Regions from separate parts of the Homo sapiens genome. Here regions 1, 2 and 3 are each linked to region 4. The links come from fine-mapping of genetic effects on gene expression. A gene starts in region 4. Each other region holds a variant in brackets. All regions are shown on one strand. Distances are between the middles of the regions. Region 1 overlaps CCDC6 (coiled-coil domain containing 6). Region 2 overlaps CCDC6 (coiled-coil domain containing 6). Region 3 has its middle 24 kb from the start of CCDC6. Region 4 holds the start of CCDC6 (coiled-coil domain containing 6).

Evidence for each region.
Region 1: its variant is fine-mapped to the expression of CCDC6 in whole blood (TOPMed, PIP above 0.99).
Region 2: its variant is fine-mapped to the expression of CCDC6 in testis (GTEx, PIP above 0.99).
Region 3: its variant is fine-mapped to the expression of CCDC6 in monocytes after LPS (Fairfax 2014, PIP 0.95).

What each region holds. Positions count from the first base shown.
Region 1 is chr10:59,870,538-59,874,762 of GRCh38, reverse strand. All of the region lies in intron 1 of CCDC6 (coiled-coil domain containing 6), which reads left to right. Among named protein-coding and RNA genes, the nearest start is that of CCDC6, 34 kb to the left of the region's middle. RefSeq lists an enhancer at 1,478-1,772. The variant A/G (reference allele first, on the strand shown) is at 2,534.
Region 2 is chr10:59,790,845-59,795,027 of GRCh38, reverse strand. It overlaps CCDC6 (coiled-coil domain containing 6), which reads left to right. Exons shown (of 9, transcript NM_005436.5): 8 at 431-555; 9 at 1,917-4,183. The coding sequence ends at 2,111. Among named protein-coding and RNA genes, the nearest start is that of MRLN, 39 kb to the right of the region's middle. The variant C/T (reference allele first, on the strand shown) is at 2,023.
Region 3 is chr10:59,928,402-59,932,607 of GRCh38, reverse strand. No RefSeq gene overlaps it. Among named protein-coding and RNA genes, the nearest start is that of CCDC6, 24 kb to the right of the region's middle. The variant TGTGA/A (reference allele first, on the strand shown) is at 2,562.
Region 4 is chr10:59,904,142-59,908,141 of GRCh38, reverse strand. It overlaps CCDC6 (coiled-coil domain containing 6), which reads left to right and starts at 1,586. Exons shown (of 9, transcript NM_005436.5): 1 at 1,586-2,020. The coding sequence starts at 1,718. RefSeq lists silencers at 997-1,291, 1,474-1,813, 1,844-2,123 and an enhancer at 2,644-2,873.

The sequences.
Region 1 (4,225 bases), 33 kb after region 4:
CATCATTAGGCATCACTCTGATCTCTTCTCTGCCTCCATTTTCCATTTTAAAGGACCTCTGTGATTATACGGGTCCCATTCAGAGAACCCAAGATAATTTCCTTATTTTAAAGTCAGTTGATGGGCAACCTTAATTCTATCTGTTCCCTTAATTCCCCTTTGCATGTAAGTAACATTTTCATAGGTTCTGGGGATTCAAATGTAGACAGCTTGAGGCAAAGTTTGCAGGAGGGAGCATTCTGCCTTCACTGGCAGAATAGGAGTATTGTTAGTGAATTGGTTGTTTGCATTGGTATGGATGGCATTTCTGTGAATATCTTTGTATATTGATCTCTGTATATCTTTGGTTAATCCATGAACCACCTTTCTGTAAACGGAGGATTTCAATGTGATAATTTTAATATGTTTGATAAAAATGATAAAATTACAGAAACTCTAGTCTTGGTTGGATAGGAGAACAAAAGGCAAGTTTAGTGCCAAAGAAAACATTTTAGAACTGGGAGAAGATCAATTTGTGCCTTTGTTACATTCCTGTTAGAGTGTAAGGTCCTGTCTCATTATAGTTTTATTATATTCCCTGTGCCTTCTGGCATATGGAATCTATGTAGGGGTGTGTGCGTGTGTGTGTGTGTGTGTGTGTGTGTTTGCTAGGTAAATGTGTAAGGAAATGAATGTCTACGCTTCGGACATGCTTCACCATTCTTTCACTTCGTTTTCTTTCAGTATTAGATGTCATAGATCTTCACTGACCATGGTTGATTTTGCAGCATTTGGGATTTTGACAGCTGTATTGTGTCTAAATGTGCTACTGCCTCAACATCATAGGAATGGGGAACATTCATTCTCATATAGAAGATTTAAGATGTACTTGGATTGTTTTAACTATTCTGTTTTGATAATTTTAAAAGCTACATATGTGTTCTCTGTCCTTCTTTTTTTTTAAAAATTAGCAGTCTATTACAAAATCATCACAAATTTAGGTAAATACCATTGTCAGAAACCAAGATTGAAAAACCTGCATTTACTTTGAAATATTCAGAATAAAGTGGCATATTAAAATACTAAATATTAAAATATAGCTCCACAGTCTCTTATCCCATGAGGCCAGATATGTTTTAGAATTTAGGTTTTTTTGGTGGTGGGAGTTGGGTCTGTTTGTTTCCCAAGGCTGTTGTAACAATGTTTCACAGACTGAGTGGCATAAAACAATAGAAATTAATTTTCTCACAGTTCTGGAGGGGCCAGAAGTCCAAAATCAAGGTGTTGGTAAGGGTTGTTCTCCCTTGGAAACCTCTGGCCGGGGAAGATCCTTCTGTGATTCTTCTAGTTTCTAGTATCTCCAGGCGTTCCTTGGCTTGCAGCTGCAGCACTTCAGTTCCTGCCTCTGAAGTCATGTGGTCATCTTCTCCTTGTATGTTTCTGTCTGTATTTTCCCTTCTTATAAGGACAGCAGTCGTATTGGATTGGGGCCCACTCCAGTGATCTCATCTTAGCTTGATTACATCTGCAAAGAACCTATTTCCAAATAAGGTCACATTCACAAGTATGTGGGGTTAGGAATTGAACATATCTTTTTCAAGGACACAGTCCATCCCATAAAAGGGAGTGGAGCTATGGAAAGGTACTGAGCACCTACCACGTATACTGTAGCACCGCCAGAGGATTGAAACAGCAGACACATCAAACCACCTCAGCAAAACATGTGAACAGGCATGCTAAGTTTGATGATAAAGCTGCAAAGAGCCTCATGTCAATTCAGATCAGGCTTGCCACCAAGTGAACGCAGTTGTTTGGTTGCTTGCCAAATGTAGCTTTCGGTTTTCAGTCTTCTGGGTTTTGGAATTGTGTTTAAAGGATCGAGGACCTGTGCTAGATTTTCACCTTAATTCCTAATGACAGCTTAGCAATATTTCTTAGAAGTTCTAGCAGGGAAGAGTTACTGCTTATGCACTTTCTAATGTTGTTACCTTCCCCCACCCCCCCATCTGGAAAGTTATCCTCTTTGACTGGATGCAGCCCCAGGTATCAAGGTGGTGAGATGTAGTTTGACCATGAAATCCTTGTGTCCAACTAGAATAGAAACTTGATGCTGAAAGTTAACCCCTTGCTAGAGGTTAAACCTTCCGTCCCTCTTTACTCACTGAAAACTAGAAAATGTTCATACATCAATAACCTCCAACTCACAAAGCCAGCCTTATAGTTAAAGCAGTGTGTCTTTTACTTCTTCGGAGGAATTGGCTTCCATAGAAAGTCAGTTCAGAAGCCCAACCCCTGGACACCTTCGCACGAGCAAGGAGACAAGGAACAGGATGTAAATTGGCTACCATTTTCTTACCTGCAACAGCACAGGAAACAGACACAGCTTTGTAGCTGCAAATGTAGGCAGCTGTTTGCTTAAGTCTCCGTATCTTAACTGAATACTGATACCCAAGGTTGGGGAATCTGCTGGAAGAAACATCCAGCTAGCACAGCCTCAGACTGTTCAAGCATGTTCATTGTAACGATTCTTCAAAGGGCAGAAGCATTGGAAACA[A/G]CTGGAAGGAATGTCAGGCAGTAGAGAGATGGTTTTGGCACATCAGTGAGATAGGTTGTTTACAACATCAAAAATTATTGGAGGAACATTTAATCATAGAGATAGTTAAAATCTAGTAAGTGGAGTGAGGATACAGTGTGCGTGTAATGTGAACCAATTTTGTAAAATGTGTAAGCACAGAGGTTACAAGGGATGGATAACATTAGCAGTGCTTTTAATAATTGGCTCCTTATTTTCTTTATACTTGAGAATTTTCTAGTTTCCTGTAATCCATTTCCCTTCTTCCTCCCTTTAAGTCCCTTGTTTGAGGAGCCTTTTACTTTTGGAGGAGAACTTGTATCCTTATATTTAATCAGAGTGCTATTTTTTTTTCTTTTGCCAATTAGCAACTGAATTTGGGGAATACTTAGTGGGAATTTTTGTTCAAAGCAGCGTGGATCCCCTGCCCCCTCACAAGGCAGGATGTGTGCTGTGCCATAAAGGACTTCATATTATCTCCCATTTTACAGATGGGGAAATGTAGGCAGGCTGAAGAAAGAAAGTAGCTTGCCAAGGTTAATTAAGAGTTAACAGCAAAACCAGGACGAGGGCTAAGGTCTCCTGATTAGCTAGCGCTGTATCTTTTTATCTGCTCCAGGCTCTCCAACCAAACTGTTCAATGGAACCTTGGGGCCCCATCCCTCAGAGCTGACCCAGTTTGTCAGGGCAAGGGTCTGGGCATCAGTAGTGCATCAACTTTTTTTTTTTTTTTTTTTTTTTTTAATGAGTATTAGGTGATGCCAGTGAAATCTTGATGTTGAGCTTTGGGAATCCATTGCCTACAAAGCAGTCCCTCCGAGATTTGTGTGTACGTGTATACACATGTAAACACAAGGTGAATGTTTATTTTTACGTACTTGAGTGCTTCGTATATACAAGGCGGTGTTCTTAGCTCTGCGAATGTGGTGTGACAGATTAGCCTCTTTAACAACTCCAGAGGCACTGTTAACATTTCTTAGACACAGTTCTATTAATTTTTAAAATATTTACAATTATATACATAATACTTATACATGTTTATATAATATAAACTCTCCTCATGTATAATACATGAAAGCATTTTATTTATATATTCTTGTTAAATAAAACTTCACTCATGGGATCATAATGTGCATAGTCTTTAGCATTTTGCCTCTCCAATTTACTGTATCTCAGGCGAGCTTTTCATTTCTAAACATAGATCTGACTGACTCTCCTCTCATACTGATGAGTTTTCATTTCAGGAATTGTGTATGGCAGAGGCTAAACTGCTGATGGGGAGACCCCCAAATACAGCTGCTCAGTTCATGGTGCTCTCATTTAATAGTCCCGGGCTGGTGGTTGACTCCTCCATGAGGTTGTTCACTGGGGTCTTCCTATTTCATAGCTGTACCATCTTGCGGGATGTTAGCCTTGCCATTGTGGTGGGACCTGCCTTATAACTTCTAGTTCGATTCCAGCCTGTGAAAAGTGGGAAGCAGCATGGATAACTGCTTCTTTTTAAAAGCTATGACTCCAAAGTTGCATACCACTTCCATCCATCTCCTGTTTGTCAGAAATTAGCCCCATAGCCCCACCTACCTGTCCAGGAGTCTGGGATATGTAATCTAGCTGGGTGGTCCTCTAGATTGTAGGAGAGTCCTCTTTTCAAAAAGAGGATGAAGAAAGTTAATG
Region 2 (4,183 bases), 110 kb after region 4:
CCCCTATTTTCCTTCTAAGAGTTTTATAGTTTAAGGTCTTATAGTTAAGTCTTTAATCCATTTTGAGTTGACTTTTGTATATAGTGTAAGAGATAAGGTCCAGTGTCACTCCTCTGCATGTGAATATCCAGTTTTCCCAACACCATCTGTTGAAGAGACTGTTCTCTTTCCCCGTTGTGTATTCTTGGTGCCCTTTTTGAAGATCAGTTGACCATATACGTGTGAGTTTATTTCTGGGCTCTCTGTTCTATCCTAGGAATTAACATTTATTTCCCTTGTTATCCACACCATTTAGTGAGCCCATCATTCTTTTCATCTGTTTGTATTTTTGTGGGTGATAGAGAACTACTGCGATTTAAAACCTCCTAGATAGTTGAAGACACCAGATAGTTGAGCTTAAAATGATACTTAATTTGTTGTTATATTTTAGGTCTATCATATGCAAGTCACACGGTTGGTTTCACGCCACCAACTTCACTGACTAGAGCTGGAATGTCTTATTACAATTCCCCGGGTCTTCACGTGCAGCACATGGGAACATCCCATGGTATCACAGTAAGTGTCCGTGGGGTAGGAAGCAGCACTTTACTCCTGAAAGTGGTACCGACTGGTGTTCTGGAGAACAGGATCGGTGCCCTTAGACATTTGCCCTTCTTCCTGCCTCCTCCATCCGTTCACCTTGAAACTGTAGAGACTTAAACAGTTTGATACCAAATTCTGGTATTGAAACTAAAATCCTTCCCAGGAGACAAAACTTTAACTTCACTTCCTATGAAAAATTACCCTTTGTGAAATATAATTTGAACTCTGGCCAGTGCTTTGATTGAACTCTGGCCAGCTCCTTGCATTATTGTTGGTTGCCATAATGTCTAAAGATATTTATTGTCTGCACCTTCACAGTTCACTGACCTTCAGTATTCTTCCTGAAGTTAGCCTTGTTTGTAATGTTACTCAGAATTTTCTCTCCTCGAATTACAAGGAAGCTTAAGTGCATCTGGTTCCAACTCTACCCAAGGGAGTTTTTTCTTTAGAGTCGGCAATATAGTTGACTAATAGAGCCATTAGAAATGTAGCTAGTAGAGTGAGAGTATTATTAAGGGTATTTCCAATAACAGAAATACCAATATTTCAAAGAATAAATTATAATATTTTAAAGAAGAACCCTATTCTAAGAATGCACTTAAGGTATTTCTGAAGCTGTTTGGCCAGTTTGATGGACTTTATGTAAAAGTAGGAACTTTTTTTTTTTTTTTCCTCACTCTGTCATCCAGGCTGGAGTTCAGCAGCATGATGTCTGCTCACTGCAACATCCGCCTCCGGAGCTCAAGGGATTCTCTTGCCTCAGCCTCCCGAGTAGCTGGTATTACAGGCACACGGCACCACACCTGGCTGCTTTTTGTATTTTTAATAGAGACGGGGTTTTGCCCTGTTGGCCAGGCTGGTCTCGAACTCCTGGCCTCAGGTTATCCACCCACCTCTACCTCCTAAAGTGCTAGGATTACAGGTGTGAGCCACTGCACCCGGCCTCAAACATAGAAACATTTCTGTTGAGCTGTATCTTTCAGGATGTGGACAACTTATTGGAGATAAGCAATAGAGGGAATTGGTGACACACACGGAAAGAAAGATTTAAGGGGATATTTTACAGCTCTCGTTGAAGGACCCAAGTCCAGCAGTTTGTTCAACACAAGTTGTGCAGTAATTTTATGTAGCTTTTTCATAGGTGGAAGTGTAAACACTGCCTTATTTAAATTTTATTACTAGTTCAGAAACCAGTAGGGATGAAGAAAGAAATCCCTGGTTTCTTGTCTTTGTTGGTTAGTGTTTGATTAGCCCCAGTGCCAAGTCAGGCTGTGTTAGGTAGAATGAGATCCACCTGTACCTAGACTGACTTGCTGTTCCTGTCCCCTCTGCAGAGGCCTTCACCACGGAGAAGCAACAGTCCTGACAAATTCAAACGGCCCACGCCGCCTCCATCTCCCAACACACAGACCCCAGTCCAGCCACCTCCGCCTCCACCTC[C/T]GCCACCCATGCAGCCCACGGTCCCCTCAGCAGCCACCTCGCAGCCTACTCCTTCGCAACATTCGGCGCACCCCTCCTCCCAGCCTTAATGCATGAGCTTAGTCTGAATTTCAAGTTGGGACTCATCCAATGGAGCCGTCTACTCAACGCCAAAGGCTTCCTTCTCTGGCATATTTGGATATGACTTATTTGCACTGAGGTTATCTAGGCTTCACTATCCATTGTGTTGTAAATGTTTGTCAGAAATGCAGCCAGTGTTGTGGGTCTACAACACTAACCAGACGACTTTTTCCATCAGTGTTTTACTTGAATCTTCATGTACGTCCATTCCCTGGCTGGAACCTTCGCTGTTTGGTATTTGGTATTTCAGCAGCAGTGTGCAATTTTTGCTTGGCCCAGAGCTTCATTCTCCTGGCTTTTAGGTTTGTAAAAGAAAAAGGGATATCTTTTTTATATTTTTTTCCATGAATCTGCAGAAAATTACTGAGCTGTTGTTACCCTCCTCTCATTATAATAGTGTTTACCAAACATACCAATAATTCAGCACTACAATTCAGACCTTTGAAAATCTGGCTTTCAGTGTAGAACAGAAAGTTAGATGAATCAGTGCCCAAGACATATTTTCTGTTTAACAGAACTTTCTACAGATACATTTTTTACAGGTTATTTTCATTGTGTTATTGACATCCATGTCTCTCGTAAAACAGATGGCCCAAAGTAATGAATCATGTGGCTGTACCTTCTCCACATAAATGGGATGGATAATTATCGTATATTAAGATGTGATTCTCTTTTTTATCCTTAATGTTAATCTACTTAACCTGGCCCCCTCTAACATGAGTCGATAAATGTTGTCCTACTCACCGGTGGTTTCAATGGCTAATTAGAATGTGTTATTTGATTTCTGCTGCAGAAGGCAGTGTGATTGTAACAAAAACAATGCGGCTTCCCCCTTTCGTACTTCATTTGTGTTCTCTTAAAATAGAGTTTGAACAAATATTTTAAAGGTGCAAAATACCATTAGAAAATACTATTTGAAATGGACATTATCGCATTATCTTGGCATAATGGCCAGAAAATATTGTATTGCTTGGCAGAAAAGAAAATAAGGTCTAAAGGAAAGTAGCACATTAGCATTGATGGCTGTTCATTTCACCCAGTATAAGCAAGTGCAGTGTACAAAGAAGTATATTCTGAATACATTATTTCCATTCATTTAGCACAAATAAATCATTTGGTTTCACTTTGCAGTGGAACACTGAGTCACTCTTTTCTTAACACGTGCAACATCTTAATTTTTGTTTTTCAGCAGTTGCTGTTTTGTACTTTGGTAGTAAAGTGATTTTTACCACCTGTGTTTGCATATTTATATATGCTGTGGATGAAAATAACTTACTAGAGAATGTATATTTTATGACAAGAATGTGTATCTGTTGGATATAATCAGAGAACTGAAAAGTAATTTATCAGTAATTTTTAAGAGTCCATGTTTTGTGACAACCATCTCTAATAGCCAACTCTTTATTAAACACACTCCTAAAAATAAGGAACCATGACATTGTAGATATTTAATATTGTACAGTATAGAAACCTCCATTTTTGCCTTCGAATGCATATTTAAGAGTTAACAGAATGAAAAAAAAAAGTCTTGTTGGATAATAGTGTTTGACTAGCGTTTTAAGAACTTGAGAGTAAAAGCAACAATAAGATTTTTTCACCTCTTCCTGCTTCCACCCCCAAACTGAGAACATCACTCAATTGTTTGGAAGAAACTGTAGGTCTATATAAATTTTATTTATAATGTATGTGTAATATACATAATCATAATACAGTTCTCAGATGCAGGGAAGAAGTTTGGCATTTAATCATTGAGGCTTTAGGTTTTTGATGTGATCAGACTGGGCCATGTCAAACCCGGAATTTTCACCAACAGTTCACTCACCCTCCTGGTACATTGCCATTCCAAGGAATTCTGAGAGTAGGCAAACAAATTTTGCCTTCATGGTACAGTTCTCAGTTTTTCTTATAGGAGAAATATGGTATATGTTTATAAGAATCTTTTATGAGATTATAGATTTCAATGCTGTGGATAGTGTCTTGCACCCAAACAAGAAAGTCCATAATGGAATGATCTTCCCTCAGCTTCCTATCGATTTAGTTA
Region 3 (4,206 bases), 24 kb before region 4:
TCCTATCTTCACGTTTGTCTCTCAGAGTTCTGAAACTAACACAGAGATCAACGGAGATACTGAGTTTTTAAAATTGGCCATCTGGCCGGGCACAGTGGCTCACGCCTGTAATCCCAGCACTTTGGGAGGCCAACGCGGGCAGATCACGAGGTCAGAAGATCGCGACCATCCTGGCTAACACGGTGAAACCCCGTCTCTACTAAAAATACAAAAAAAAAATTAGCTGGGAGTGATGGCACGCGCCTGTAGTCCCAGCTACTCGGGAGACTGAGACAGAACAATCACTTGAACCCAGGAGGCGGAGGTTGCAGTGAGCCAAGATGCACCACTGCACTCCAGCCTGGGCAACAGGGCAAGATTCCATCTCACACACACACACACACAAAATTGGCCATCTGTTGATGATAATCGTCAAAGGTAAATGATGGGTATATTTTATCATCCACTGTACGGTCTAAAAAATAGGAAGTCAAATGAACAAACATTTTTCAAAAGAAAACATAACGTGCAGCCGGGCCGGGCGCGGTGGCTCACGCCTGTAATCCCAGCACTTTGGGAGGCCGAGGCGGGCAGATCACAAGATCAGGAGATTGAGACCATCCTGGCTAACACGGTGAAACCCTGTCTCTACTAAAAATACAAAAAAAAAGTTAGCCGGGTGTGGTGGCGGGTGCCTGTAGTCCTAGCTACTCGGGAGTCTGAGGCAGGAGAATGGCGTGAACCCTGGAGGCGGAGCGTGAAGTGAGCCGAGATCGCTGCCACTGCACTCCAGCCTGGGTGACAGAGCGAGACTCCGTCTCAAAAAAAAAAAAAAAAAAAAAAAAAGAAAGAAAACTTAACATACAGCCAATAAGCATATGAAAAAATGCTCAACATCACTAATCATTAGAGAAACGCAAATCTAAACCACAATAAGATACCATCTCACACCAGTCAAAATAGCTATTACTAAAAGGTAAAAAATAACAGATATTGGCGAGGCTGCAAAGAAAAGGGAAGGCTTATACATTGCTGGTGACAGTGTAAATTAGTTCAGCCACTGTGAATAGCAGTTTGGTAATACCTCAAAAAACTTAAAACAGATTACCATTCAACCCAGCAATCCCATTATTGGGTATATACCCAAAGGAATATAGATTGTTCTATCATAAAGACACATGCACACATATGGTCACTGCAGTACCATTCACAATAGTGAAGACGTGGAATAAAGCTAAATGCCCATCAACAGTACACTGGATAAAGAAAATGTGGTATACCATGGAATACTATGCAGCCATAAAAAAGACAAGGTCATGTCATTTGCAGCAACATGGATGGAGCCAGAGGCCATTATCCTAAGTAAACTAACACAGGAACAGAAAACCAAATACCACGTGTTCTCATTTATAAGTGGGAGCTAAACACTGAGTATGCATAAACACAAAAAATGGAACAACAGACACTAGGGCCTACTTGAGGGTGGACAGTGAGGATCGAAATACTACCTATTGGGTACTATGCTCATTACATGGGTGATGAAATAAACTGTACACCAAACCCCACAACACATAATTTACTTATTTAACAAACCTGCCTGTGTACCCCCAGAAACCAAAATAAAAGTTAAAAATTTTTGCTGACTGGGCACAGTGGCTCACACCTGTAATCCCAGCACTTTGGGAAGCTGAGGTGGGAGAATCACCTAAGGTCAGGAGTTCGAGACCAGCCTGGCCAACACAGTGAAACCTCGTCTCTATTAAAAATACAAAAATTAGCTGGGTGTGGTTGTACATGCCTGCAATCCCAGCTACACAGGAGGCTGAGGCAGGAGGATTGCTTGAACCTGGGAGGTGGAGGTTGCAGTGAGCTGAGATTGCGCCACTGCACTCCAGCCTGGGCGACAGAGTGAGACTCCATCTAAAAAAAAAAAAAAAAAAAAAAAGGAATAAAATGCCTAATAAAAATAAATAAAATTTGGCCGGACGCGGTGGCTCACGCCTGTAATCCCAGCACTTTGGGAGGCCGAGGCGGGCGGATCACGAGGTCAGGAGATCGAGACCATCCTGGCTAACAAAGTGAAACCCCGTCTCTACTAAAAAAAAATACAAAAAGTTAGCCGGGCGTAATGGCGGGCGTCTGTAGTCCCACCTACTCGGGAGGCTGAGGCAGGAGAATGGCGTGAACCCCGGGGGGTGGAGCCTGCAGTGAGCCGAGATAGCGCCACTGCACTCCAGCTTGGGCGACAGCGAGACTCCGTCTCAAAAAGAAAAAAATAAATAAATAAATAAATAAATAAATAAAATTTATCAAAAAAATAGGAAGTCCATTGTCATCTCTATTGTATTAAAATATCTATAGTGAAAAGTTCACATTAAAAGAAAAGAAGAAAGAGAAAAATGAAGGCAAGAAGAAAGGAAAGAAAGAAGGAAGGAAAAGATAGAGTGACAAACATACATAAAATAATCACTCAGGCTTAACATACCCTGCTTTGTTCATCATATGAGAACATGCATATAAAAACAAATACAACTCTGAAGCCTACCTTTGTGTGTGTGTGTGTGTGTGTGTGTGTGTGTGTG[TGTGA/A]CTTTGAACAATATCTACTAGTATTTGTCTCTCATTCCTCCCTTTCCCAAGTCCCTGAAAACTATTAGTCTGCTTTCTACCCCTGTGATCTCCCTAACTGAACATTTCATATAAATGGAATCATACAATGTGTGTATTTTATGTCTTCTTTCTTTTAGCATAATGTTTCCAAGGTTCATTCATGTCGTAGTATATACCAGCACTTAATTTCTTGTAGTGGCTATATCCATTGTATGGATATACAGCATTTTATTTATCCATTCATCAGTACATTGACATTTAGGTTGCTTCTACTTTTTGACTATTCTGAAAATGCTACTATGAACGTTTGTTTCCAAGTTTTTGTATGGATATATGTTTTCAATTCTCTCTGTTAAATACCTAGAAATGGAATTACTGGGTACTATAGTAACCCTAGGTTTAACATTTTGAGAGACAGCCAACCTGTTTTCCAGTGTTTGCCAATTTATAACCCAACTATCAATGTATGAAGATTCCAATTTATCCACCTCCTAACCAACACTTGATAATGTCTGTTTTTGTTTGTTTGCAGTGTTATGAAGTAGTATCTTATGGTTTTGATTTTTAATTCCCTACTGACTAATGATATTGAGCATTTTTTCATGTGTTGTTAGCTATTTGTATGTCTTCTTTTAGAAAGATGCCTAGGTAAATCTTTTATTCTTTTTTCTTTGCTCATTTTTTAAATTGAGAAATTTTCTTTTATTGTTAAGTAATAAGAGTCCTTTAGATATTCTAGATACATTCCATTGTTAGCTATATAAATTGCAAATATTTTCTCTCATTATGCAATTATTTTACATTTTCTCGATGGTGTTCTTTGAAATGCAAAAGTATTTAAATTCTAATGAATTCTAGTTTATCTATTTTTGTTTTACTTGTGCTTTTGTTATCATGTCTAAGAAACCAATCTTAATACAAATTTTTTTTTTTGAGGTGGAGTTCCACTCTTATTGCCCAGGCTAGAGTGCAATGGCACCATCTTGGCTCACTGCAACCTCTATCTCCTGGGTTCAAGCAATTCTCCTGCCTCAGCCTCCCAAATAGCTGGGATTACAGGCACCCACCACTATGCCCAGCCAATTTTATGTATTTTTAGTAGAGACAGGGTTTCACCATGTCGGCCAGGCTGGTCTCGAACTCCTGACCTCAGGTGATCTGCCCACCTTGGCCTCCCAAAGTGCTGGAATTACAGGCGGGAGCCACTGCACCTGGCCTTAATGCTTAATACAATTTTATGAAGATATTTTCTTTTAGGAGAATCCTTAAAAGAAAGTTTTGGCTGGGTGTGGTGGCTCACACCTGTAATCCCAGTACTTTGGGAGGCTGAGGTGGGCGGATCACAAGGTCAGGAGTTTGAGACCAGCCTGGCCAACGTGATGAAAACCCATCTCTACTAAAAATACAAAATTAGCCTGGCATGGTGGCAGGCACCTGTAATCCCAGCCACTTGGGAGGCTGAGGCAGGAGAATCACTTGAACCCGGGAGGCAGAGCTTGCGGTGAGCCAAGACTGCACCACTGCACTCCAGCCTGGGCAACAGAGTGAGACTCCGCCTCAAAAAAAAAAAAAAAAAAGAAAGAAAGTTTTATTCCTTTTCATTTGGGTCTAAAATCTATT
Region 4 (4,000 bases):
GAGTTCAGAAGCCCTCCAGCACTAAGCTAAAAAATACCTGGGAGAAACTGGGGTTTAGTTGCTGTTGGCATTTAAGCTGTTTGCTAAAAGCAGCCATCTTGGTGAAAGATGATGTCATTTGGAACACTTGGTGTTTTCGAGTTTATTCTGAGGTGCCAGTTTCCAAGAGCCATTGAATCACCGTTTAATCATGAGATCAAATTTAGGTTTAAAGATAATGAGGGAGTGGGAATAAGAATCATTCTTCTTTCTTCCTAACACTTTAGAAATCTTTCAGAAAGTTCAACCCAACAGAAAAAAAAATTACACTTTTTTTTCTATTTTCTATTACCATGTGTTTGTTGTAATGTTAACTAAGCGTGGGTAATAAAACTAGTCTGGTCAGTTTCACTTTCCAATTTTTATACATAAGTGAAAGCTGTTTTGTGTCAACAGGGCAAAGTGTTTAGAATCATCTCACCTGCTGGGCCAATTTCCTGCAAGCCTTTCTTTGGGAAGAGGAAGGGGGAATAAAAGTTTTTGATTTTTAATTTCTTAAACTGCAAAGCTAGAACCATGAATTAGACCGCATTACAGTAATTACTGTTTTATTTTTACATGCTAAAGTTTTCTAGGAGTGAGCAAGAGGATAGCAAAGACGGGTGATGTTGCACTCCCACTCAATCATTACTATTTGTATAGCATAATGTTATGTCCGCAGTTACTTTGGAAAATTGGCACTTAAAGAGGTGTTTCAATCTTCTACTAAAAGTGTTTCGCCTTCCTTTTTTTTTTTCTTCATTAGGTAAATGTTACTGTCTTAATCCTACTACGAGACATGTGCTGGAAATGTTTGCAAAATGCAAAGAGAAAAAGAAAAAAACAGTTGCACCTTGTTTAAACAATTGAGCGCAGTGTGGTTTATGAGGTTATTAAAGGAGATGTGTGTCTCTCCTGCAAATTCTTACTTAACAAGGTTAACCTGTGGCTGCTGTTGTTTCATCCTCCTCGGCCTCTTGTAGAGGAACTTTGTTCTCTTAGGTTTATCCAAGCCTTCCTAGTCAAAAACACCTTGCTTTTGAGAATATAAAACTGCGTGTATGTGTGAAACAGATAGAGGGAGACACGCGCACACACAGTCGGCGGAAGATGGGGCCACAACACGGTAGAGGATGGGTGCCGGAGCCCGGCTGACCTTTCCACGTGTCCCCGGCACCTGCGAGGCTGGTGGGGCATCAGGTTTCCTTTTTCTCGGGGCGGGCGCGAGCCCGGAAGAGGCTGGGCGGCCGTGGGCTTAGATCAGGGGGCTCGGAGGCCCTCCCTTGGAACACGTGTGGCTGGCGAGCTGGTGGTGCGGGGGCAGTCCTTGGCTTTCCCGCACCCGCAGTGCCTGCGCGTTCCCAGCCCGCCCGTGGTCACCAGACGGCGGCGGGCGGGTCCCGGAGCTTTCAGCCAGCTTTGCTGGGCGGCCTAGGGAGCGCGCCCAGCCCGGCTGGAGCGAGCCCCAGTGCAATACTGCCCAAGCCCGGGCGGGGTCTCTGTTCTCTGGCAGAGGAGGTCCCTTGGCAGCGGGAAGCGCCCTCTCTTTCTCTCGCCGCCGCTCCGAGTCTGCGCCCTGGTGCCAGGCGCTCAGCTCGGCGCTCCCCTGTGCTCGCCCGGCGCCCACTCATTCGCAGCCCGGCCTTCGTCGCCGCCGCCTCCCTGCTGCTCCTCCTCCTTTCCCCAGCCCGCCGCGGCCATGGCGGACAGCGCCAGCGAGAGCGACACGGACGGGGCGGGGGGCAACAGCAGCAGCTCGGCCGCCATGCAGTCGTCCTGCTCGTCGACCTCGGGCGGCGGCGGTGGCGGCGGGGGAGGCGGCGGCGGTGGGAAGTCGGGGGGCATTGTCATCTCGCCGTTCCGCCTGGAGGAGCTCACCAACCGCCTGGCCTCGCTGCAGCAAGAGAACAAGGTGCTGAAGATAGAGCTGGAGACCTACAAACTGAAGTGCAAGGCACTGCAGGAGGAGAACCGCGACCTGCGCAAAGCCAGCGTGACCATCGTGAGTGCCCCCCGGGGACGCGCCGCAGCGCCGACCTCCGCCCGCCCCGGGAGGGGCTGCACCCGAATCCAGCCACCCCCCAAGTCTTCCCCAGATTCCCGGGGACCCTCTGAGAGCACACTCCCTGCGGGGACCTGCTGGCTTCCGGGAGGAGAGGGAGGTATCCCTTCGGGGCCACGCGGGTCTGTCCTCCTCGGGGGTCTGAGGACCCTTGCGCGGTGCGGGGGAAGGCTACTGTGGCAACCATTCATGGTCCCTTTTAGCCTCTGGAGAGGAGGCCCCTCCGGGGCTGGGCTGGAGGCTGGCGGCGTGGCTGGGGGGCGGGGTAGGACTTTTTTCAGCCCTAGCATGTTTGAGGGGTGCGTCCAGAATCTGGGGAACCCCAGTCCTGGAAGAGGGAGGAAGCTGGGATCTCTTACTGGGTCCTGGCTCGGAGTGTGGGGGTTCGCAGCTGGACTGGGCACTAAGCTGGCATCTGGACTGCGCTAGCTGGATCGCCCGGGGAGGGGGCGGGAGAGAGTGGCCGGGAATCCGGGAAGTGGAGTTTTCTGGCCGGGATCGAGAGGGAAGGGCGGGTACGGCGCTAATGCTCCCACCTCTGTTGGAAGCTCTTTGCTTTGGGTTGGGAGGGTGGACGGTTTACAGCGAGGAGAGTGCAGCATCCACGCCTGGACAGGGCTGGGGCCGAAACCAGGGGAAGGGTAGTGACTGTGACTCCCTGGCTGAGCCAGAGGTACGTGTGTTTGCTTCATTCGTGGAGTGGTTAGAAGTATCTTGCTTCTGAGTCTAGATACTGGAGAACAGGCCATCTGTTCTGTTTCTACCTGTCCCCTGGAGGCTGCCCAGAAACGGGTAAGCTTGGGTCTGTAGGTCTCTCTCCTGGTGTGGCAGGCGTTTAGAAAGGCCCCTATAGCAGTGATGAGGCGAAACGTAACTAGAAAAAGTACACTGTGTACTCTCACCTATCATCCCTGCCAGCTCACCACATCATTAACATGAAGGATCCCCACACAGACAACTGTATTCAAATCAAAAGTTCCCCAGCCAGAAGCAGAGAAGATGATGTCAAGAAATCAAGGGGGATAAATGGCCATAGCTGCTGCAAAATAGCGGATTAGGCTGAACTTTGAAATGAAGAAAAAGGGATGAATTTGGGGATAGAGGGTCACACCTTGGAAATGGAGCAAGTTTAGGATGCCCCTTGTGCCAGGAAATGCCTTCGGTGGAGGAGGCTGTGTATATGTGTGCGCACGCGTGTGTACACCCCCAGTGCTGGCTCATACATGAGAACTAGATGGCATTCTTAATTTGTGTAGAAAGCAAGTTGCAAGTTAAGTGTGATCAGTAGCCTAAATAGCAGTTGATTGTAAAAAGAAACTTTTCATGCTCAAATCCAATTTTGGAGAATGGAATTGGAGCAACTTTCATGTGAGATGGTAAAGTTCTTGAAGTGCCCTTTTGGTAGGAAGGTGGGGGGCGGGGAATTTGCAGAGGCAGCCACTTCCAAGCCTCCTATGCAGCTTTCTTCGCTGACAGAGATGTCTTTGCTGAGTGGGGGTTAAGAAGAGAGGGAAGTTGTTGGAGGCAGTTTAAGGTTTGAGTTAGTAAATGAGAGGGTTAGTCTCTTGGAGACTGTGAGCCATGGAAAGTAGTAAGACTTGCATGAAGCAAAATAGCCTTTTGCATGCAGTGGGCAATTCAGGCTGGTTTTGTTTGGGAGGGAGGAATGAGGGATGCAGAGACTATGAAAGGGTTATCTGTTTGACACTTAGACCGTATTATAACTAGGTTTGTAAATTGTGCTTAAACATGTTGGCTTTGCAGGAACAAATGTGTTCATTCCCGGTGTTTAAGATCAGAGGCCTTCTGAGTACTTGGCTAGAAGAGCGTATAAGGTGGTGGCTTGCTTTCTTAGCACTTACCCTTAACTACACTGACATCCAACCGAATATACTTTGTGAAATGTCGTGTGGTGTTAAT